Linked DNA regions of Homo sapiens. The protein of the gene in region 5 purifies or fractionates together with the protein of the main gene of each other region. This does not show direct contact. Each region holds a gene or a part of one and is shown on either strand. Other genes may lie near its edges. The genes, in order: ARID4B, ING1, CDYL, MIDEAS, HDAC2, MIER1 and MIER2.

Region 1 (3,500 bases), on a different chromosome or scaffold from region 5:
AAAAAATACAAAAAATAGAAATTAGCCAGGCTTGGTAGCGGGCGCCTGTAGGACGCTGAGGCAGGAGAATGGTGCGAACCTGGGAGGCGGAGCTTGCAGTGAGCCGAGATCACGCCACTGCACTCCAGCCTGGGCGACAGAGCAAGAGTCTGTCTTAAAAGAAGTAGAATTCAGGACCTAGTAACTCATCCTGGGGTAGGAAGAAGATGGAGGTTTTTTTCTTAGGAAATTAGATAGATGTTACTGTCATTTGAAGCATGCTGTCATTGGACCTGCTAGTTAAGATGTAAGAGTAAGTAGGTAGGATGAAGTCAGAGGCTTGGTTAATCTGGTGTGAATGTTAACCTCATATCTATGATATTTGAAGGGATTTAAGATCCATAACATGGCAAATTTTGTGCTATAAATTTGTGGTCCTTTAGATGAATAGGTAATCTTGTAAAATACTAACATGTTTTCTGTCCAAATTGCTAAATCTTTGTTTATTGTAATTAAAAAAAATACTAGGTGAGTACCTATGTCACTGAAGAATGTTTTTGCCAAGTCAGCCAGTGAATTCAGTCATTGAACACATTGTGTACTTTCCTTGTACCGGACATTGTTCTGGGTTTTGAGGATGCAGCAGTGAATAGAACAAGAGTTCTTACCCTCGTGGAGTTTACTTTCTACTATGGTGGACACACGTTAAGAAAAAAAATAATGCTAAGTGCTTTGAAGAGAAATGATACGGAATCAGAATAAGAGGTTAGAGTGACAGAGGGTGGGTTACTTTAGATTAGGTGATAATGGAGGGCCTTTTCGAGATGACATTTAAGTGTGCTGTGAAACAAGTGATAGAGTGAGCCATTCAGGTTTCTGGGGGAGGAGCATTCCCTGCAGAAAACAAGTGCAAATACCCTGAGATGGAGTGTGCTTGGCATGTTTGAGTGTGATACATTTAAGGAACATTAAGGCCATCAGGGCTGGAGTGGTAGGAGAGGAGGTCAGAGAGGGTCACAAAGGGCCAGTACAATTGTAGGGCCTTATAGGACATGGTAAGGACTTGAGTAAAATCTGAATGTGTTAGGAACCCTTTGAAGGGTGTTGAGTGAAGTGATGTGATAAACATTTTCAAAAATGTTTGACTGCTGGGTAGTGAACACATCATGGGTTCGAACAGATCATGGGAACACAAGAGTGGAAGTAGGGAGATCAGTCAGAAGGCTGTCAAGCTAGTCCTGGGGAGAGATGGTGGTGAGGAGAAATAGTAGTATTGGGAATATATTTGAAGATGGGGATGATTGGATTTCAATGGATTGGGTGTGAAGGGAAAATTCTACTTACTGCAACTTGCACATGTATGTCCTCCCACAAGTGCCCTCCCTCCTTTTCTTTTGAGACGGAGCCTCTCTCTGTTGCCTAGGCTGGAGTGCAGTGATGTGATCTCGGCTCACTGCAGCCTCTGTCTCCCGAGTTTAAGTAATTCTCTTGCCCCAGACTCCCCTGTAGCTGGGATTACAGGCACCTGCCACCACGCCTGGCTAATTTTTTTTGTATTTTTTGTTTTTTTTTTTTTAGACGGAGTTTCGCTCGTTACCCAGGTTGGAGTGCAATGGCACGATCTCGGCTCACTGCAACCTCTGCCTCCCAGGTTCAAGCGATTCTCCTGCCTCAGCCTCCCAAGTAGCTGGGACTACAGGCATGTGCCACCATGTCTGGCTAATTTTTGTATTTTTAGTAGAGACGGGGTTTCACCATGTTGGCCAGGCTGGTCTCAAACTCCTGACCTTGTTATCCACCTGCCTCGGCCTCCCAGAGTGCTGGGATTACAGGTGTGAGTCACCTCGCCCGGCCTTTTTTTTTGTGTTTTTAGTAGCAATGGGGTTTCACCATGTTGGCCAGGATGGTTCTGAACTCCTGACCTTAAGTGATCCGCCCGCCTTGGCCTCCCAAAGTGTGAGCCACTGCACCTGGCCGTCCTCCCTTTTTTTAAAAAAGTCTTTTTGCTGTGATTAGTTGGTAGATGGGATTCTTGGAACTGAGTATGACCATGAAGGCATTGTCAAATCTTAGCCTTCTCAGTGAGCAGTGAACATTGAGTTGAGCAATCCTTTCACTTGTTTTTTTAATTAAAAAAAATGAGATATAATTCACATACCATAAAATTCACCCTTTTATTTTATTTTTTTTGAGACATGGCCACAGTCTGTTGCCCAGGCAGGAGTGTAGTGGCGCAATCACAGCTCACTGCAGCCTTGATCTTCAGTGGGCTCATGTGATCCTGCTTCAACCTCCCAGGTAGCTGGGACCAGAGGTGCACGGCACCATGCCCAGCTAACTTTTAAATTTTCTGTGGAGGTCTCACTGTGTTGCCCAGGCTGGTCTTGAACTCCTGGGCTCAAATGATCCTCCCATCTTGGCCTACCAAAGTGTTGGGATTACAGGCATGAGCCACCGCGCCTCACCAAATTCACCTTTTTAAAGTGTTCATAAATTTCTAGTATTTTCACAAGTTTGTGCATCCATCACTACTATCTTTTGAAAACTTTTTTGTTAATTTCTTTTGTTTGTTTTTTTAGAGATGAGGTCTTGCTGTGTTACCTAGGCTGGCCTTGAACTCTTGTGGTCAAGTGATCTTTCCCCCTCAACTTCCTGAGTAGCTGAGACTTCAGGCACGTTACTTATCCCTAGCTATCTGTCACTGCTATTTAACTCCAGAACATTTCCAAATTCCCAACAAGAAACTTCTTATCCATTAGCAGTCATTCACTGTTCTCCCTTTCTTTTATCCCTCCAGTAACTAATCTAAATTTTTTTTTTGAGAAGAGTTTTGATTCTGTCACCCAGGCTGGAGTGCAGTGGCTCGACCATGGCTCACTGCAGCATCGACCTCCTGGGTTCAAGCGATCTTCCTGCCTCCAGCTCCCAAGTAGATGGGATTACAGGTGTGCGCCACCATGCCCAGCAAATTTTGGAATTTTTTGTAGTAGTGAAGTCTCACTATGTTCCCTAGCCTGGTCTGGAACTCCTGAGCTCAAGTGATCCTCTTGCATTGGCCCCCAAAGTGCTGGGATTACAAGATTCAGACACTGAGCTTAGCATTTACTTTCTGTCTATAAGGATTTGCGTATTCTGGGCATTTTCTGTTAACGGAATCCTGTAATACATATGTGGCCTTTTTGTGTCTGATTTCTTTTACTTCCCATAAGTGAAAGAAGTAGCAAGTGTTGACCAGGCGCGATGGCTCACGCCTGTAATCCCAGCACTTTGGGAAGCCGATGTGGGTGGATCACGATGTCAGGAGTTCAAGACCAGCCTGGCCAAGATGGTGAAACCCCATCTGTACTAAATAAAAAAATTAGCCGGGTGTGGTGGTGGGCGCCTGTAATCCCAGCTACTCAGGAGGCTGAGGCAGAGAATTGCTTGAACCTGGGAGGCAAAGGTTGCAGTGAGCTGCGATGGCGCCACTGCACTCCAGCCTAGGTGTCAGATCAAGACTCCGTCTCAAAAAAAAAAAAAAA
Region 2 (3,941 bases), on a different chromosome or scaffold from region 5:
TACTAAGCAAAAGACGTTTGACTTCCTACAGAGTAGGTCTGTGGAAGTCTTTCAGAACTACGCGGCAGAGCTCAGCATTTACACCGAAGTCCAAGGAGCTGTGACCCTTGCGACAGATTCGCTCGCTTCTCGGCGCTCCCAGCTGCGCCGCTCCAGTACTCCCGGGGGGGCAGGACTGTGATCTTTCCTGAAGCCAAAAAGTTCATCACCCTAGGTGAACATGAAGCAAGCAGCAAGCCAGGCTCTCCCCAGCAACGACAGGAGGACAAAGTGGCTCCATGAACTTTGCTGTCTGGACAGCTGGAACCCTGCACCCCGCCCCGCGCTACTTTTTTCTATCGTCGAACGATCAAAGTGGTCTCAGCCCCTGCCTTCCTTCCGTCCGGAGCCCCAGGGTCACCCCACGGGGCCCGTCCGGCCCGAGGACAGCACCTTCCAGAAAAGTTTCTGCGCCGAGGGTCCCCCTCGTGGACGCAGCCCCAGTCACTCACGTTTCCACGGCCACGCGCGGCCCCACCCTCGGGTCAGCAGAGATGCGGCCTGAAACTGTCTCCGAGCCGGCCCCGCGGGTCGCGGGAGGCGGTCCGAACTGCAGCCCCGGCCCCGAGCCCACAGGCCCGGGATCACTGCTACTGCTATAAATCCGCGCCCGAAAGTGGCCGGGCTGAGCGGGGAGAGGGGCCGGGGCGACACCCGCCAGGCCTCCAGCCAATGGGGAGGAGGCCAGCGGGAGACTCGCCCCGCACCCCGAGAGCCGCCGCCTATGGGAATCGCCGATTTGGAGGGCGGAGGCCAGGAGGAGAACCAACCACACCGCAGGGCGGAAGAGCACGGCCCGCCCCAGCAGCGAGAAGAACCAATCCAAGGCTGGAGGCCGAGCGACCCGAAGACGTTCAAATCAACTCGTCCACCCTCCACCCCGCTCCTCCCCGAAAAAGAAAAAAGAAGACAGCGGAAACACAGACCCATACCAGTTATTGCGCTAGGCCCGCCTTCATCCGCCTCAGCGACCAATCGTTCCGCAGGGGAATGATAAGGACATTCCACGAAGGACATCACAGCCAACTACTGGGGGGCTGAGGCGGGACGTTCCATAATATGCTAATGAAGTTCCTATAAAATTCGCTGCGAAGCTACGTCTCGGATAGAACGCGCAGGGGCGCCTTCCCGGCAGAGGCGTCTAGTACTTTCGGGGATAGCGGTCAATTTTTTTTTTTGCCCCCACCCAACTCTTCCGTTTCCCTACTGCGCAGCCTTGTAAACATTAGTAAACTCCGAGTGGTGATCCACATTCAAAACAGAGCCCCCAAAGCCTTGACTGACCTCGCAGGAAAGTTTCCCCAACAGCCAACAATTCCCGGCGGACACGAACTCGCCACCTCTCTCTGACACCCGGGGCGGCCAGGTCTGCAGAGAACGACGCACAGGTCCTCTCACCTGCCACAGTCCTCTCCAAGCCAGCGATCTGCCCGCGCCCCCCCGAGCGCAGCGCAGATGGGCGCCTTCCCCGCCTCCGCTCCTCCCCTTCCCTTCCCTTCCCTACGGCACACAGAGAAAAGCCCTCGTCCTCCGCAAACTACAACCGGCGGCGTCGCCCCTCGCAGTCGGCCCCTACTCGGTGTCCAGCTCCAAGTGAGGGCCGGAGGGGGCTGGGCGGGGGCGGCCGACCTACCCCGAGCGGAGTACTACCCGGTACTTTATGTAACACTCAGATTCGGGACTGAGTGGGGGGCGACGAAGAAGGGCCAGAGGAACGGCGTTGCCCGGGACCGAGGCACCGGGTCCGCGGGAACCCCGGCCCACAGCCGCCCTCCTCCTGCAGCCCCGTCTCGGCGCCCTATAGCCCCAGGCGCCGGCACATCCCTCCATCTCGCGCCGTAATCTGCACCCCCTCCTAGAGGACGCGGCTTGGACCCGCCGCCCCCTCCCCCGCAGCACCCGCCTCATCACTTCACTACAAAGAGCGCTTTGGTCGCGCAGCCTTGCAGCGAGACCTCTCGCGCCTCCTTCCTCCTCCGTGTCCCGGGCTTTGCACACAAGGACCTTGGCGAATCAAAGGCGCTCCAGACCTTTTGTTCCTGCCCCTGCCGAGGGCCGCCGCTGCGGAGCCGGCCGCTTCCTCCGGTCCACGGCAGGACCGGCCCGGCTCCGCGGCGCGCCCGGACCCGCCGGGAAGGAGGCGGCCGCCCCCGCCCATCCATCACCCGGCCGTACCTTGGTATTTCGCGTCGATCTCCCGCATCAGCGAGACATTTCTCTGCAAGTCGAAAGGCAGGGACTCGATGGAGTCCAGGTAGTCCTCCACATAGTTCACCAGGTGGAGCTGCTCCCCGTTGGCAGGACTCAACATGGTTCACCCCGGAGGTCCCCGGCGACTCGGCGCGGCTTTCCGCTTCCTCCACCCCCCGCCCCCCTCAAAAAATAGCACTGCAAAATGCAAAGCCCTCGCTCTCCCGGCGCCCCCCCGCCGGCTCCTGCTTCGGCCCGGCGGCTACATCTGCCGAGCCCGTCCGCCGCCTCCGGGTCCGCGGGGACCCCAGCGCCTGAGGGCGCGGGCCGCGGTGGCGGTGGCTCCCGGGCGCACGCCCCGGCCGGCGGCGCAGGCCCCCTCTCAGGCGGCGGGGCTGGCGCCGGGGGCCGCGCGTACGAGCGCGCACACACCGGCGGGAGAGGGCCCAGCGCCGCGGCCGCCGCTGCCCACTCGCCCACTGGGCTGGGTAGAAGAGAGGAGCGGAGCGGGCAGCGGGAAGGGGCGCGCTCCGCTGGCCGCCGAGCCGCACTTGTCCAACGTGGAAAACCCAAATACCAGTTTCAAACACTTGGGAAACATTCAGCCCCGCTGCGCAGCGCGCATGCGCCCCGGCCCCCTCCCCCGGCAACGGCCCCGCCCCCCGCCGCATTCACGCCCCTCACCGTCCCAGGCCCTGGGGGCTGCGGGCTCCAGGCCGGCCCTCGCGGGGGCGTGGCCTTGCCTGTCACTTTTTCCAGAGGCGAGGGTCGCGGAGGGGACAGCGTCAGGGCCGCTGGGGTGTGGACGGCGGGCGAGGCGCAAACTTTACTAGGAGTTTTTGGCACTTGGAGGCAGAGCCTGTTGGGCGGCACAGCACGCCCGCTGGGAAACGCAGGGGAGCGGCCTGCTTCGCTGAAAACCCGACCAGGACCTAACGGGCCGCGGGACAGAAACCTCCGAGACCATGGTACACAGCAACTACCGCAACTCGCTCCTCAGCCCCTGACTCTTCGTCCCCGCCCCACAGAGCAGTATAAGTAGGGCCCGAAACAGAACTGGCAACCGCAGTAGCCAATCTACTTGCCAACATCACTTTGACAGCCCAATCACGATGAAGAGGAGGCGGGGAGACCGTGAGTAATGCCCCCCGGACTCTTACTACTAGAAACCCAAGTCCTCCGGGAGGCGGAAGGAAGGGGAGGGCCGGGCACGGGCGGAAGTGGCGGCGCATGCGCACTGGCACCCTCTCGGTGTCCTTTGAGCTGCGGCCGCAGAGTGCGCGGGAGACCTACCCATTCCGCGGCCGGACCACCACTCCCAGCAGCCTAGGCGGCTCCCGCGCCTGCGCCATCCGTCACCGCCCTCCCTTTGTGTCGTCTCCCGGTACTCAGTTTGGAACGGCTTGGAGACAAAGGGGCCTGAGAGGGAAGCTGCTTCCTAGTGCCGAGCCCCAGAAGAGGTGGATAGGCCCGAGGGGCGCCTTCCCTAGGCCTTATCTCTTCCCGCCCTGTGTCATGGACACCGTTCTCGGAGGCCGCTCCCCACACTTGGAAAGGCCGCCCACAGTATGCAGACACCCGGTCGGCCGGCGTCCTGAGGCCATTCAGCTCCCCGGACCGCCCTCCCCCGCGTCGCCCCTCTACCCTCCCAAAGCTCCCGGATTTTGGGCTTTCTGAGAAGCCTGGACGCCACGCGAGCCCGTTGCCTAGGC
Region 3 (3,500 bases), about 110 Mb from region 5:
CTGGAGTGCAGTGGTGCAATATCGGCTCACTGCAAGCTCCGCCTCCCAGGCTCACACCATTCTCCTGCCTCAGCCTCGTGAGTAGCTGGGACTACAGGCGCCCGCCACCACGCCCGGCTAATTTTTTTTTGTATTTTTTGGTAGAGACGGGGTTTCACTGTGTTAGCCAGGATGGTCTCGATCTCCTGACCTCGTGATCCGCCCGCCTGGGCCTCCCAAAGTGCTGGGATTACCAACTTGGAGAAAGTCATGAGTTTTTGAAGAGTCTGGAGAAGTTCTAGAAACCCCTGAACTGACGAGCTTCTTCTCAGTGAAAAGACGGTCCATAAACAGTGGATTTAGAAACGCGACCCGACCTTACTGTGAGTGGTTCTGATAGTCCTTGTCACGGCAGATCCAAACGCAGCAGGAAAGGGAGTGGGACTCCCGGTGTGCTGCTGCCGCACGAAGTGCTCTGTGCTGTCGGGGTTTTCCTTTCATAGACTGTGCTTCTTTCATTCTCAGCATAGAGTGAGGACACTACAGCCACATCCCTGAAGTTGAGCATGAAGTATGTTCTCAGGACCAGCTTAGTGGAGCCTTAGCTTGGGCAGCGGAGGCAAGCGACCCCGCCAGGCCTGGTGTCTGCGGTTCAATCACAAAGGGCAGGTGTCCGCAGGCTTCCTCTCCCGCCCTTCCTGCAGGGCCCTGGCTGTCTGTCCCAGTCAATTCTTCCAACTTTATTTTCTGCCACCTGGAGGTCAACTTACAGCCCCACCACTGTTCTCTTCCCTGTCTCCCTTTCGTCCCCCCTTTGTTGACTCTCTTGGGCCTGATACCAGCCGAGAACGGCCCTTCTCTCTGCTCAGCACTCACTCATTGCGGCCGGTCTTCCTCCACAGCCCCGCCGGCTCCAGGCCTGCTCATCCCTGGAGATCCTTTCCCTACCTTCGGTGTTCTCCATTCCAGGTGGTTGGATGTGCAGGACAAGCAAGGGCATTTCTCAATTTACTCAAGAGCAAAAATGACAGGGCTCACGCTAGGTTGTTAAAGCTTTTTCACTTAAACACGGCCAGTGAGTTGGTTTGAACGACAGTCACCCAAGAAAACAACAACAACAAATCTCCCTTGGTAAGATATGTATTATAGGATTAAATACACGCAATTTGCGTGAGCATATTCTTATATAAACACACTATTTTCAGTAGTTTCAAAATGAGAGGTTTCAAACTTCTACCCAAATAACCGATTCACACAGATGCAGGCGGTGGGAACCTGACCAGCTAGCACGTTGCTCTGAGATGGCTGAGTGCACAGGGACTCCCTGTAGACAACCTACATCACCCCATGATGTGGTCAAAGTTGTCCAACTATTAAAAGAAAGTTATCCTGGAACCATCCAGAGAGATGGGAAATGCCGAGGAAAGTTAAATAGAGATGTCTTTTTAGTTTGGCCAGAGTACAGCAGGACGGGTGGCGAGGAAACTGGCCCAGTATGAGCAGAGGGGATCCAGGAATCTTCAGCCTTATGGGGACTGCTGTGGCAGAGGTTTTACCACCTGCTCCCTCAGGCCAGTCTCTGAAGTCCCCAAGAGAGGGCTCTCAAGGTGTGAGCGTGGGGTAAGGCCCTCAGGTACTCGCTGGGCATTCTCCAGCTTCACACCCCAGCAGGCCCCTGAGAGGTGCAAGATTTCCACGTGGGAGCCTGTGGGCGTCAGACCGTGCCATCCTCCATGCACTCCATGAATGTCTACTGGGCACCAGGAAGGCTAAACTGGAAGAGACTCCTTGGCTGATTTACGTAGCCCTCGCCTACAGCGGAGGGCCTGCTGTAAGAAAGGAGAGGCCACACAGCCTGCACTATTTGCATATTCTTTTTATCTTGATAATGTGATTCCTTTAGCTTATCCTCCTGGCAGAGCTCTGCACATGCAAAGTGGGGAAAACCACACTTGTCCAGTCTTGCCTCAGGCTGCTGAAAGCTCAAGTACACCAAAGGCTCATGAAAGGAACGACATCATTTACATCATCTGCATAGTCACTTTCAACAAGAGTTGTCGAAGTCATCTGAACAACGTTTATTCACTTTCTGTAGAGAGGCTTCGTCAGATACTCTGCTCAGAAAGTGTAGAATTCACGCCGAGTGAAATGCAGGCTCTTCGCTCTTGAGTTAGAGCAGGGTTTCTCCCCCTGGACACTAGGGACATTCTGGGCTGGACTGTTGTTTGGTGTGGGGGCTGTCCTGTGGGGGCTACATGCAGGGTGCTAAGCAGGGCTGTCCCGTGGGCTATGGAGGGTGCCGAGCAGTACCCCAGCCTCTGCTAACGGCCATCTCCTCATGTGTGACAACCAAGTTGTCTCCAGACATTGTTCCCCAGGGGTGAGGTCGGGGGTGAAAACTGCCCAGTTGAAAGCAGCAGCTCAAGAGGCACCAGTACATCTCCAGGGGAAGCGTAAAGTAAAGATCTGCCAAGGCTTGTAGAGTAGGGAGAAACACGGCTGACCAGAGGGCAGGCATTCGTCCTGTGATGACTTCAAGCCTCATGGCCCTTTCTGGGAATGGTGAACTCTGACACCTCTACCCCTGAGCAGCATTCAGCTCCAGGGCTCCACTTCCAAAATGTCTTTGGCCAAAATGTGTCTGAACATCAAGGTGGTTTAGTATTTGCCCCACATCTGCACCGACACCACACATCTACATAGATCATACAGTGGGAGGGGTCAGAACCTCAGATCTCAACCTCCTTTGGATAAATAACTCAAAATGAGATTCACGGGATGTTCCAGAGGATGAGGATTCTTTCCTGCCGGGACAGGGTTAACTGGCAGGACACAGTCTCGTTTACAGTAATCACTACGATGAACTGATTTTACTGATAATGACTCTACCATGGGAGTCTGGTGGTGTCAGGTGCGTGCAGTACGGTGTAAAGGACAAAGCAAATGACTTGGATAAGCCACCCACGTCCCCACCCCAGCAAACTGCCTGCTGTGGGAAGTGCTGTCAGCAGGCAACAGAGAGCTCAGGGCCTCCCCCATGGACCGCTCTTCCCAGGGCCGCCAACCCCACGGCCAACTGCAGTGGGGCACCGGGAACCGCCGTGAGGCCACGTGGTTCCAGAGCTCCCTGTCAGTCAGCTCTGCCCAATCCTGCTTCCTTTCTGCCCTTCCATGGACGCTGGCACCTAATCTACCAGACCCTGCTTCCCAAATCTATCTTAGCTTCCAGAGAAACCACCTTGTGACGAGGGGAGTGGACAGACCGAGGGTGAAGAGAGAGGTTTAGAAACTGCACGGCTCCCCAGCTGGCAATGAGGGACCACCCCCCAACAGGCCAGGTGGAGAAGCCACAGTACCTGGCACAGGCAGCCGTCCACGTGCTAACACTCTCACAGGTGAGGGGCAGGGACATGGGTGCAAGCAGAGGGGCAGCCGGGAGCAAGAGGCAGAGAGGGCTGAGACTTGGCCTTAGCCCCTGGACTTGTCAGCAAGAGTGGACAAGCTCCACCCAGGTTAATCAG
Region 4 (3,500 bases), on a different chromosome or scaffold from region 5:
ACCTAAAGAAAAAGTAGGCAAAACCTCAATCTTAGAAGGAGATGTCGGCCAGGCGCGGTGGCTCACACCTGTAATCCCAAAACTCTAGGAGGCTGAGGTGGGCGGATCACGAGGTCAGGAGATCGAGACCATCCTGGCTAACATGGTGAAACCCCATCTCTACTAAAAATACAAAAAATTAGCTGGGCGCGGTGGTGGGCGCCTATAGTCCCAGCTACTCGGGAGGCTGAGGCAGGAGAATGGTGTGAACCCAGGAGGCGGAGGTTGCAGTGAGCCGAGATTGCGCCACTACACTCCAGCCTGGGTGACAGAGCAAGACTCTGCCTCAGAAAAAAAAAAAAAGATGTCAAGATCTCAGTAGTGACAGTACAAGCAAACACCTCTCATTCCCAGCACCCAGCACGGGCCAAATCAGAATTTGCTGATCTGGAAAAAGAGATGTACACAACCTAGAATTCAATTCTAGGCAGTTTCAATTTCAAGTATAAAACTGTCTCATCCCCCATTAGGAGGGGGACATCTCCAAATGCCCCTTCTGGACGTCTGTCCAGAAGTTTGGTTTGGAAAATAAAAATAGTATCTCCACAGGTTCCCTGATACCTTCCTACATTGCCATGTTCTCCTTTCCCCATAGGGTCCTGGGCCCCCTGAGCACTCACGCGCTGGAGGTGTTTAGAAGGGGCGCCTCTCATACCTGAGCTTGAGCATCTGTCCCGGGGATTCGGGTGGACCGCCTGCGGGTGACGATGACTGATGGCTTGTGCTCAGCAGGGTTCTGTTCAGGACCCTTCCCGTCCTCATCAAGACCTCCAGCCTGGGCTGCCTCAGTTGGGTCCACAGTTCGCACAGGCACAGACACTGGGATGATGAGGGGTACCATCCCACTGTCTTCTCGTGCTCGCTTGGTGGCTAAGGAAGGCTCAGAAAACTCCACCCCACACTTGGTAGTTGAGGCCAATACACTTTTCCGCTTCTCTTCAGAACCACTGCCATCCTGGACAAGATGGGAACAGAAGTGCAATTTAAAAGGTAAGTCATAGCCAGGCGCAGTGGCTCACGCCTATAATTCCTGCACTTTGGGAGGACAAGATTAAAGGATCACTTGACGCCACAAGTTCAAGACCAGCCTGGGCAACATAGTGACACCTCGTCTCTACAGAAAATAAAACAAAATTAGCTGGGCATGGTGGCAAACTCCTGTGGTCCCAGCTACTTGGGAGGCAGAGGTGGGAGGATTGCCTGAGCCCAGGAAGTTAAGGCTGCGGTGAGCCGAGATCGAACCACTGCACTCCAGCCTGGGTGACAGAGTGAGACCCTGTCTCAATAATAAATAAATAAACAAATAAAAGATAAATTCTGATTTGATCTAGGACCCTCATTCCCATTTAGTCACGGGACTCAAACACCCACAGTGGCTCCCAGTGGTCTCACAACTTGACCTTTTTCCCTGACTACCTTTTCTCCGACCACTTTTTTTTTTTTTTTTTTTTTTTGGAGACAGGGGGTCTCACTCTGTCACCCAGGTTGTAGTGCAGTGGCACAATCTTGGTTCACTGCAACCTCTGCCTCCCAGGTTCTAATGATTCTCCCACCTCAGCCTCCCCAGTAGCTGGGATTACAGGCGTGCAGTACCACACCTGGCTAATTTTTGTGTTTTTTGGTAGAGATAGGGTTTTGCTGTGTTGGCCAGGCTGGTCTCCCAACTCCTGACCTCAAGTGATCCACCCACCTTGGCCTCCCAAAGTGCTGGGATTATAGGCATAAGCCACTGCGCCTAGCCTCACACTGTTCTCTTCTATAGAAAGTGCTTCTGGCTGGACACGGTGGCTCACGCCTGTAATCCTAGCACTTTGGGGGGCTGAGGCAGGCAGATCACGAGGTCAGGAGTTCGAGACCAGCCTGACCAACATGGTAAAACCCTGTCTCTACTAAAAATACAAAAATTAGCCAGGCATGGTGGCAGGCGCCTGTAATCCCAGCTACTCGGGGAGGCTGAGGCTGGAGAATCACTTGAACCCGGTGATCTGTATCTATCTGTATCTGAAATAGTATCTAATTATTCAAAAAATATTTCTGCAAAAGAAAGTAAGCAAGAACCCTGTGGCAAGGTGAAGGGTGGTCTTTGTACTGTTTTCCCACAGGCAGCTGGCTAGGGCAAAGTCTGGCTTTCCCTAGGCAAGAAGCAAATCCTGCAGCCGCCCACCTATCAGCCTGATGCCCTCTGCCAGGTGTGGCTCCACTGCATGCCACTCTCACCTTTGCATTCTGCAGTGAGGCCAGCTCCACAGCCTTCTGGGCCAGGGTCAGCAAATTGGCCTCCTGGGATGCCCGGCGCCTCCGTCGCGTGCTCTGGATCACTCCGCCCCGTAGCACCTGCCCACAGTCCCCTGTGCTCACTGCCCTCATGCCCTCCTCGCTGCCCATGGCAGGAGCCTCTCGCTCCCGGCCATTGGGTGCTAGTCTCTCCCCATCAGGCAGTAGCTGCGACTCCCTCAGCTCCAGCGGGAATCCCAGAGCTTCAGGATGGGGCTGCCCCAGGGAGCCAGGTGGCGGCTGCTGCAGGGGCCAGTGATGTAGGAACAGGTTGCCAGTGGCCTCCTGCCCAGGCTGGGTGCCAGCCCCATCCAGGGCGCTGGGAGGCAGGATACCCTCCTTAGAGAGGCGGCGGGAGCGGCGGGGGAAGGGGATCTGGACCTGAGGTAGCGCTGGCTGCGGGGCTGAGTCCTGCAGAAGGGCCTTGCGCAGTTCTGGGTTCATATCTGGGTTGGGGGGGAAGGGGTAGGGTGCCATGCTGTGGTGAGCCAGGTGGGACTGTCCCAGTGGCCCAGCTGGCTGCAGGCCAAAGTCCTGGGGTTGCTGCGAGGGTTGCTGCGGCATGGAATAGAAGTTCTCAAAGAGCGGCATCTGGGGTAGGGCTGCCTGCTGCTGCTGCTGCTGCTGCTGTGGTTGCTGCTGCTGCTGCTGCTTCTGTGGAGGGAAGGCAGCCACCGGGTTTGGGGGCGGTGGGCCCTGCCGGAAGACCTGCCGGTTCACCTGGTGGCCGAATGCCAGCTGGAAGGGTTGCAGGGGCAGTGACTGGTTTGGGGGTTTCTTGGCTGCGTGGAAAGAATTCAGGGGTGCCTGGGGCCGCCCTACCTCCAGCTGCACCTTCTGTGGCATCATTGGTCGCACATAGCGGTCCAGCTGTGGGCCCCCCGCTTTCTCCCGCTTCAGTGCCTCAGGGTGGTTATAGTAAGTCGGGACTCCCACTCCAGGATGCGGGCTCCCCTTGGTTGCACTGTAGAGGGACAGACTGTGGCAGTTCCATGTTGAATGGGGTGGAGGCTGGCCTGGCTGCTGCTGCCAGCTGCTGTCACTGACACCCCCACCTCCTCCACGCTCCGGGCCCCGCCCTGGAGCCATCACAGAGTTGGGCCACTTTACTGAGGCCACCTGCTGGGACAGCATGGCTGCTGAGGTCCGCTCAGGCCCATATACCACAGAGTTCAGCAGGGCCAGGC
Region 5 (3,500 bases):
GTCTATCATTTCAACACGGGTTTATATATTACAATAAAAGCTAGAATAAAAAATGCAATTTATCCACTAAATCTTTCAAAGTCCTCCCTAAATACACCTTTTGTTTGTTTAATGGAAACAACCCCAAAAACTTTTTTGTCCTCTCTCCTACATATTTGATAACAGTACGGGATAAACAATCAGCTTTTACAAAATCCATGCTTCTAATAACATAAATACTTGATTTTGTTGGTATCACACCTCTAATTTTAGTTAACTTCATTTTCAGCACAGCTCTCTTCTGAAAACAATTCATATACAAAGTCTTTTAAAGGGAAAGCCACCTTTTTAATGCAGGTGCCAACAAGGCTAAGAAACAATATAGAGTTTAGCAAAGCAGGGCCATGGCCCTTTGCAACATTCCTCTGCAATTATAATTAAGAGGCTATGATTGCAGAAAATAAACTACCTATTAAGAAAGAATCTACCATAAAGCTCTACCTTACATGGTGACAATACAAGGGATATATAGTTCCTTGAAAGCAGCCTGGTCTCATCATTTCTTAGATATGGAAAACCCACTAGTGTTATTACAAAGCATCATGTAATTAAATTAATACAAGGGAAGGCATTTCTTAGTTATCACTACTAAAGAAATCATTAAAGTAAAAATAATGAAAGTCTAGTCTTCACTAGAAATGCAGATTCTATGAGGTTTCGTGGGATGACCCTGCCCATAATAATTTCCAATATCACCTAAAACAGAAAAGACACAAACTAAACAATAACTTCCATCTATCTGCCTCTGTGTAACAATTACCCAAATGAAATGTCTCTAACATCTACCACATCATAACATCAAATACTCTAGTTATTTGATGCACACTGAAAATCCAGTGAAAAGCCCCAGGCCCCAATAATTGGAGACTACAGTAGCAATTTCTGAGCAAGTGTGTTTGAAAAAAAAAAAAAGCAGTAATTAACACTTGTTGAGTGCTTACTAGAAGGCACTATTAAGTACTTCACATATCTTTTAATCTTGTCAATAACCTTATGATGTGGGTATTATTACATTATTCCTATTGTATAATAGTAAAGAAGGATGAGAAACAGACAAGTCAGGTATTATTGCCTAAGTCACATAGCCAGCAAGTGGAGGAGCTAGATTCAAACTCTGGCAGGGCAGCTCACAGCTAATGTTCTTAAGTAATAACAACAGGGAATGTCAAGGACACTTACAGATTCACTAGAAATGGCAGGGTGAAGGCTGAAAAAAAGACATAATATGAAATATAAATATTTTAAATAAAGGCTTAGGGTCTTGGTTAATTTAAAGAAAATGAACACAAGAAACTGTACCTAATATATCAGAGTAATTTACTTTTTACTAATAGGGTCCTCAAATCGTATACGAATACGCATAGCTTTCAACAAGTTTCTCTGTTGAAATTTAGGGACCCCAGTCCCACAAAGAATACACAAAGAACCTAAATGATACATGTATACAGGGCAGCCAAGCTACAGATAATTTTTTGGTTTACCAAGAATTCTTCTAGCTGGGCGTGGAGGCTCACACCCGTAATCCCAGTACTTCGGGAGGCCGAGGCGGGCAGATCACGAAGTCAAGAGATCGAGACCTTCCTGACAAACATTGTGAAACCCCGTCTCTACTAAAAATACAAAAAAAAAAGCCAGGTGTGGTGGCATGCGCCTGTAGTCCCAGCTGCTCAGGAGGCTGAGGCAGGAGAATCACTTGAACCCAGGAGGCGGAGGTTGCAGTGAGCCGAGATCGTGCCACTGCACTCCAGCCTGGGTGACAGAGCGAGACTCTGTATCAAAAAAAAAAAAAAAAAAGAATTCTTCTAAAATATAAAGGCGTTATAAAATAACCATCTCCAACTTTTTCCCACTAATTCTGTATCTCACAATTCTCTAGATGGCTACTTTGTAGGCATCCACTTTGTTTTCTTTTTGAGATGGAGTTTCGCTCTTGTCACCCAGGCTGGAGTGCGGTGATGTGATCTTGGCTCACTGCAACCTCCACCTCTGGGGTTCAAGCAATTCTCCTGCCTCAGCCTCCCAAGTAGCTGGGATTACAAGCGCCCACCACCATACCCGGCTAATTTTTGTATTTTTAGTAGTGACGGGGTATCTCCATATTTGCCAGGCTTGTCTCAAACTCCTGACCTCAGATGATCTGCCCGCCTCAGCCTCCCAAAGTGCTGGGATTACAGATGTGAGCCACTGTGCCCAGCCCACTTTTTCATAAAGTATAAAAAGGCTAAGAAGTTTTAAGACCCTACAATTTTTATTCATCATTTAAATGGTCAGTAATGTATTAATAATTTGGGCATTTTAAATGTTACTGATTTGCATCAAAATACAGATTATCCCTAATCCAAAAATTTGATATCCAAAATGTTCCAAAATCTGAACTGTTTTGAGCACCAACTTAATAGTCAAGGAAATGCTAACTGGAGCATGTCAAATTTTTGATTTTCGAATTAGGGATGCTAACTGGTAAATAATTACAAATATTGCAAAACCTCCCCAAATCTGAAATACTTCTGGTCCCAAGAATTCAGATAAAGGATATTCAACCTGTACATAAAAATACTTTACCAATGAAATAAACATTCAGAAAAATCAGCTCAAGGTGGTTCCTTGAACACAACAAACTTTAATTGTCAATGCAAAGAAATTACTGTAAAGAATTATTTATCTGCAAAATTTTACAAATTGCTCACTCTTCAAGAAACTAACAGAATGGAAGTGTCTACTAAGGTCCACAATCTCTTATCCATATTCCTTCAAATTAGATATGTTTCAAATTTTACACTTTTTCAGATTTTGTAGAGATAATATGGTACACCTGCCATATATTATGTAATAGCCTAGAGTTTGGGTGGCATGATATAATCAAACATTAATATTTCTACAGCAAAAAAGTGTGAATATTCACGGTATTCACAGAGGAATAAAGATCATAAATAGCCTCACATTGATTCAGGTTAAGATTTTGATTCCAAATGAGTTACCAAAATTTTTTTCAATTTTCAGGTCATTTTGGATTTCAGAACTGTGAAATGTACCTTTAGCCACAAAGATAAGTTGACTGCAAAAAGAGACTCAGGAAAAAAAAAACAAGAGAAAAGAAAAAAGTTTATTATTTTCATCTTCCAGACTACTTAGCCCACTATCCATTTTTTATACATATTAACACATCTTTAATACATATTTCAAGGAGGTTATTCCTCCTTGAGACATTCGGAGCCTTGGCTTCCATAATACCATTTTCTTGGGATTTTACTTGTACCCCAAGGCCACTCCTCCACCAACCTTTAAACATCAAGGGTTTTCAGTTCAGCCATTCATTTAATAAATCAAGAGCCTACCATGTGCCAAGCAGGTACTGTTCTAAGGGTTTGGGTTCATCAGTGAACAATAGTTCTGCCCTAAATTCTCTTCTCTCGGGAGTTAAGTCCTGGGACCAGTCGTCTGTCTATGCTGTATCTTTTTCA
Region 6 (2,565 bases), on a different chromosome or scaffold from region 5:
GCTCTGCAGGAAATTTTTTTTTTAAAAGACAAAATTTCTTAGGGAAAATCATGCATTTCATGTTGGTTAATTTCCAGCAAATACGAAGTTTGACAAAAGAAAAATATTTAGCTAGACTTACATGGCAAAGAGGAAGGTAAACTCATTTTCTTGAGATCGTGCCTATTCCTCTTTTTGCTGTCTCTGTACTCAGAATACACTTTACTTTTCTACCATTAACACTTTGCTGCCTTCTTGAAGAACAGGGCATGCCGCATCTCTGAAGCCACAAGCCAAGCAAGCATAGTACCTGGTACAAGTATAGGCCGAAATATTTGCTGGATATTAGAGTATATGGAAACATAATGAAAGCTTGTCATCATTGACATTTAAATGTGAAACTGTCACCATCAATTTGGACAATTAGAATCCATCTCATCTCGTTTACATGGCAATTCTTCAATATTCTTCACAGAATAAGTAGCCTTTAAAAGTGTGTTCAAATTACTTCTTACTCAAGAGCAAGCAAAATGACATTTTAATTACATTATACATTCTATAATTCTTTATACTAACTAAAGACAAATTGAAAATAATCATATTCTGAAAAGGAAAAACTCCACGTCCGTATAGTTGGCAAAAGATCAGCACAATACTAAGGGTACATGACAAGAGTTTATGGAAAACTGGTATTAGAAAAGAAAGGTTAATCAGATATTCAGATACATGAAATCAGTCTGTAAGTGGGTGGATGGATGTGTGGAAAACCCTTTAAGATTCTGCAAAGGATGAACTTGATATTAAAGAAGAGAGTTAATTTTTACGGTAAAAAGTTGTATCAGTAGAATTATGTGATACAGAAAAAGTCATTTTGAGAGAAGAGAGTCATTTTTAGAATAAAAGGTTAAAATTTGGAAACTCCTGTTCTTCTGTATGTTACATGGTTTTCCACACTGGCATTTTTCATGAATATGGATTATAGTTGGGAAAACCTTACTATCTGATTTGGTATTTAGTTACACACCCCATGTAAATATTGCCTATTATATTCACCAGCCCTCAGTTATTCCAAGTGCCCACTCCTAATTATCCATCGATAGCAAAGAAAATATTGTGACAAAACAAGTTTTATTTTGCAAAACATAATGTGATATGAACTCCACTACAAAATACGGGAACACATTATTTTTAAATTATATAATCCAGCAGAAGAGAAACAGAGTGAATGGAGGTCTAGGGACTGAAAGGATCTCTTGTGGCAAAGGGGAAGAAGACAAAAATACATCACCCAAGATGTGGTAAAGGGGACCAAGAACCACTGAAAAAGTAGTGCAATATGTCTAGGAATAGAAGAAACAGACTGTGTATATATATATATTTGCCTTGTCAATAACATGCATCATTCAAACAATCTCTAATAAAATCTTAGTGAATTAATCTAATGAAAATATTCACACAGTATTATGTAGGCAAATATGTTTAAAAAAATATTTTAATAAGCATATTCAGAATGGCAGACAAGGAATGGGAGAAGGGAATTATTTTACAGTGCAAAATTACTATGCATAAATTTAACATCTAATTTGAAATTTTAAATGCCTATTTAAATATTACTTCAAATACATTTTAAAGCTCAACAAACTTGTGTTGAACTGAATTGCAGATCCTGAACTCTATTTGAAAATACATCATGAAACAGAAAATACCCATTCCAAATGAAAATGATAGTGCTTTGTTGGGGGTGGGAATGAGGCGGGGAGACTAAATCACTATTAACAGACTTCTTTTTCCAATGCAATTTGTCAAAAGTTCAAAAGTTCTGAAATGTACTAAATCTTAAGCAAATTAAATTCATGATATTACTAAAACTTTTTAAATAGTGCAATGACTTATCAAGTTATAGTGGCTGCATTAAGAACAAATTATTGTGTGAAATACCTGTATAAACACAAAATACAATTAAATATTTCTTTACAAAAAGCTGAGCATTACGCATAATAGTGGAATGTCTTTCATTAGGTGTATTTTTTAAAGATTAACAAAAGTAACATTTCCTAAAATGTATACATGTGCCATATTTTTGCAAACATGCCTGAGAATGTATTTAAAACATTTCTGTAGTAAGAGTTTGCAAGAACTTCACAAACCTGCAAATAAAATGCATCTTTTTAAAAAGGTGAAAATGGCATCTCCAACACTGCAACAATTCAAAAAGTACAGCATCCCTAATCTTTAAAAACATTTCTACAGACCATCTTTGACAAAGAGCTAGGATACTTTGGATTCATTTAATAAAAAATGATTTAGAAAACAGATTGTGACCATCTGCTTGCTAAAGCTACTGCCATTCTGGATAAATTAAAAGTTTTAAGTAAAACAAAAACAACAAAAAACTCATACTTCTCAACACTTCCACCCAAAACTTTGATTTACTTAGATATGTATGTAACAACAGTGAATGTACATTAAGATGAAGTCAAGTGTTGCAAAGTGGCTTTTAACACTGTTTGGGAAAAAAAGTTGTTCACATTGGTGAAGGGAAGCAGTCCGAACATATGTTAACAGTAATACTTCATGGGGGTAAGG
Region 7 (3,500 bases), on a different chromosome or scaffold from region 5:
TGAACACAGAGAAGCCTGCGAGGATTTGGGGAGCAAGTGGACTAGAAAGAGACCAACACCCATCTCGTTAGGGTAGAAGGAGCAGCAGGACTCAGTCGAGGTGGGTTCACACCGGACTCCATGACTCCTGAAACGGGGGTGACGCTGAACCCTCACCTGCACAGGTCAGTACAGCATCAAGGAGCATGCAGGGACAAACCAATGGGGGCTCGACAACACCAGTCCCTTAAGCTCCGTCTGCAGGGCCACATGAAGAAGACATGCGATGTACATGGCCCAACAGTTGACGGCTGTCATCAGATCCAGGGTTTCCCCGAAAGAACTGGGATGTGTCACCATTCCTCTGCATGTTTACTCTCCAATTGGTCAAATTTTTAAACAAACAAAGGAAATAGCTAGGGCTCAATCAATCCAGACAGAGAGCAGTGTAGGCCAAGGCTGGGGGCCTGAGGGCCTGGGAGTCCAGGGCACGAGGCCTCTAGGGCAGCCACACAGCCTGTAGGGCTGGGCACACAGGTGTGCACCACACACAGCCCATGCACAGAACATGCAGCTGCAGGGCACAGAGGACCCCCAGCGGCAGGCACCTCGTTAGAGTGAGGGAATGACCTGGAGCTGAATGGGTGCGCCCGGACCCTCAGTGGCCACCGCACCCTTGGAGGAGCCACGTGAGGGAAAACAGGGATGGCACCGCCTTCTCTGGGGACTCGGGTGGTGACTAGTTTGATACGGAAAGAGACGCAGCCCTACACCTGGCAGAAGGAGCCCAGCCAGGGGAAGAACAGTCATAGAGACCCTTGCCCTACAGCGTCAGCTCCTCCCCGCAGGCCCAACGCAGGTGGCTGGCAGGCGGGCATGGGACCTTGATGCCCACTGGGCAAGCAGCAGCGCAGGGAGGTGCAGGGAACCCGGGGTGCTGCCTGTCTCGCCGCCCTCCACCTTCTCAGCCCCGGCTCCCTCAGCAAGCCACCCCTTCCCAACACCCTGGCAAGATGAGGCAGCCCTCAGCTCGGTGCAGGCGTGTGCCCGGGTCCTCTGCTGGGGGTGCTGGGCTCTGAGGATGGTCTTGGGTCGCCTGGGCTCCCTGCCCCTGCTAAAGAACAGGAAGACGGGAGTCCTGACCACTCTGCCCCACAGCTCCATCTGAACGGGTGGGAGCTGGGACACCCTGGACTCTGGAAGCCAGTGTGCCGGTCCACAGCTCAGCCAGGCCCAGCAGGCATTCTGTCTCTCACAGCCACAAAGGCCTTGGCGGACCTGAGCAGGGGAAGGAGGGAGGAAGGTACCTGCTGTTGTCTGCAAGCCCGGCTCCCCTGGGCACAGGCTGTGCTCGAGGCAGGAGACCACGCGAGGACTCTGCCTCCCCAGCGAGGAGGCCTGCGAAGGAAGAGAGGCAGGGTTAGCTCGGCCGGCCCAAAACCTGCTGCTGGACATCACAGTGTGGCAGCCAAGAGCAAGCGCTGGTCAGAGCCCAGTCCCCAGTGACCAGGGAAGGGGCTTTGTCTCCGCCTCTGAGGGCTGGGGGGCACTAGGAGCAGCACACGCATGTGGCCGCCACTCGCCCCGCCTCCCACCAAGGACCGCTCACAGGGTGGAGGCGTTCTCGCCCAGGGCAGGACATGCATCATGTGACACTGAAAACTGCCCACACACAGGCCTACAGTCCTGACCCATGCTGCAACCTGGATGAAGCTCAACAACAGCATGCACTGGGAGGGAAGCCAGACACCAACGGCCACAGCGTAGGGTCCACTGATACCAAACATCCAGAACAGGCCAGTCCACAGACAGAATGGGGGCTCGTGGGGGCCAGGAGCCAGGGAGAGAGACAGTGGGAGAGTGACTGCTAACGGGGACAGGGCTTCTTTTGGGGATGACAGAATGTTTTAGAATCAGATAGAGGTGATGGTTGCATGGTCGTGAATACACTAAAAATCAATGAATTATAAACTTTAAAATGGGCATATTTTATGGTTTGTCAATTACAATTTTTTTTTATAAAAAGGCAAACAAAACCATTATAAGTTACCATTATCACAATGTTCAATATCTCTCTTTTTTTTTGAGACAGAGCCTTGCTCTGTCGCCCAGGCTGGAGTGCAGTGGCGCAATCTTGGCTCACTGCAACCTCTGCCACCCAGGTTCAAGTGATTCTCCTGCCTTAGCCTCCCGAGTAGCTAGGACTACAGGTGCGCACCACCACGCCCAGCTAATTTCTGTATTTTTACTAGAGATGAGGGTTTCACCATGTTGCCCAGGCTGGTCTCAAACTCTTGACCTCAAGTGATCCGCCCGCCTCGGCCTCCCAAAGTGCTGGCATTATGGGTGTGAGCTACCGCAAGCCACGATATCTCTCATGTACATAAACACAAAACCCTCAACAAAATACTAGCAAACTGAATCCAGCAACACATAAAGATGATTATAAGCCACGACCAAGTAAGATTTACCGCAGGGATGCAAGGTCGATTTAATATCCAAAAGTCAATTAATATAATACATCACATCAATAAAATAAAAAAACAAAACACAGGATCATCTCAACATACCCAATCCAACAAAATCCAACATACTTTCATAAGGAAAAATACCCAACAAACTCAGAACAGAAGGGAGCTTCCTTCTTGGAAAAACCCATACTTATCATTGCCCTCAATGGGGAAAGGCTGCTTTCTCCTTCACACCATGAGCACCACAACGTGTACTCTCACCTCTCATGCTAAATGGAGGGCTGGATGGTGTAGTCAGCGTAAAAGCATCAAATAAAAAGAATCAAGATCGGTAAGGAAGCCGGGCACGGTGGCTCACGCCTGTAATCCCAGCACTTTGGGAGGCTCAGGCAGGCGGATCCCTTGAGGTCAGGAGTTCAAGACTAGCCTGGCCAACATGGTGAAACCCTGTCTCTACCAAAAATACAAAAAAATTAGCCAGGCATTGTGGCATGTGCCTGTAATCCCAGCTACTCAGGAGGCTGAGGCAGGAGAATTGCTTGAACCAGGGAGGCGGAGGCTGCAGTGAGCCGAGATCGTGCCACTGCACTCCAGCCTGGGCAACAGAGCAAGACTCCATCTCACAAAAAAAAAAAAAAAAAAAAAGGCTGGGCGCAGTGGCTCACGCCTGTAATCCCAGCACTTTGGGAGGCCGAGGTGGGCAGATCACGAGGTCAGCAGATGGAGATCATCCTGGCCAACAAGGTGAAACCCTGTCTCTACTAAAAATGTAAAAATTAGCTGGGTGTGGTGGCGGGCACCTGTAGTCCCAGTTACTCGGGAGGCTGAGGCAGGAGGATCGCTTGAACCCAGGAGGCAGAGGTTGCAGTGAGCCGAGATCGTGCCACTGCACTCCAGCCTGGCAATACAGCAAGACTCCATCTCAAAAAAAAAAAAAAAAAAAAAAAAAAAAGATTGGTAAGGAAGAAGTAAAACTATCTCTGTGCTGGTGCTGGTGACATGATCTAAAAAACTATTCAAACTACAGTGAGTTCAGCAAGGTTGCAGTAC

The links.
Region 1: the proteins of HDAC2 (region 5) and ARID4B purify together in Homo sapiens (affinity purification with mass spectrometry; 4 studies listed by BioGRID and IntAct, with this or other methods). This does not show direct contact.
Region 2: the proteins of HDAC2 (region 5) and ING1 purify together in Homo sapiens (affinity purification with mass spectrometry; 5 studies listed by BioGRID and IntAct, with this or other methods). This does not show direct contact.
Region 3: the proteins of HDAC2 (region 5) and CDYL purify together in Homo sapiens (affinity purification with mass spectrometry; 6 studies listed by BioGRID and IntAct, with this or other methods). This does not show direct contact.
Region 4: the proteins of HDAC2 (region 5) and MIDEAS purify together in Homo sapiens (affinity purification with mass spectrometry; 5 studies listed by BioGRID and IntAct, with this or other methods). This does not show direct contact.
Region 6: the proteins of HDAC2 (region 5) and MIER1 purify together in Homo sapiens (co-immunoprecipitation; 6 studies listed by BioGRID and IntAct, with this or other methods). This does not show direct contact.
Region 7: the proteins of HDAC2 (region 5) and MIER2 purify together in Homo sapiens (affinity purification with mass spectrometry; 5 studies listed by BioGRID and IntAct, with this or other methods). This does not show direct contact.

Annotation. Positions count from the first base shown.
Region 1 is NC_000001.11:235,318,180-235,321,679, reverse strand, and holds part of ARID4B (AT-rich interactive domain-containing protein 4B), read left to right. Parts: intron 1-3,500. UniProt on the Homo sapiens protein: Acts as a transcriptional repressor. May function in the assembly and/or enzymatic activity of the Sin3A corepressor complex or in mediating interactions between the complex and other regulatory complexes.
Region 2 is NC_000013.11:110,712,559-110,716,499, reverse strand, and holds the start of ING1 (inhibitor of growth protein 1), read right to left. Parts: upstream 2,801-3,941; 5' UTR 2,351-2,800; coding exon 2,215-2,350; intron 1,489-2,214; exon of another isoform or gene 1,057-1,488; coding exon of another isoform or gene 492-1,056; intron 1-491. UniProt on the Homo sapiens protein: Cooperates with p53/TP53 in the negative regulatory pathway of cell growth by modulating p53-dependent transcriptional activation. Implicated as a tumor suppressor gene.
Region 3 is NC_000006.12:4,947,404-4,950,903, reverse strand, and holds part of CDYL (chromodomain Y-like protein), read right to left. Parts: intron 1-3,500.
Region 4 is NC_000014.9:73,736,304-73,739,803, forward strand, and holds part of MIDEAS (mitotic deacetylase-associated SANT domain protein), read right to left. Parts: coding exon 2,257-3,500; intron 1,030-2,256; exon of another isoform or gene 995-1,029; coding exon 695-994; intron 1-694.
Region 5 is NC_000006.12:113,961,149-113,964,648, forward strand, and holds part of HDAC2 (histone deacetylase 2), read right to left. Parts: intron 1,247-3,500; exon of another isoform or gene 1,219-1,246; intron 1-1,218. UniProt on the Homo sapiens protein: Histone deacetylase that catalyzes the deacetylation of lysine residues on the N-terminal part of the core histones (H2A, H2B, H3 and H4).
Region 6 is NC_000001.11:66,986,555-66,989,119, reverse strand, and holds the end of MIER1 (mesoderm induction early response protein 1), read right to left. Parts: 3' UTR 501-2,565; downstream 1-500. UniProt on the Homo sapiens protein: Transcriptional repressor regulating the expression of a number of genes including SP1 target genes. Probably functions through recruitment of HDAC1 a histone deacetylase involved in chromatin silencing.
Region 7 is NC_000019.10:334,797-338,296, forward strand, and holds part of MIER2 (mesoderm induction early response protein 2), read right to left. Parts: intron 1,378-3,500; coding exon 1,287-1,377; intron 1-1,286. UniProt on the Homo sapiens protein: Transcriptional repressor.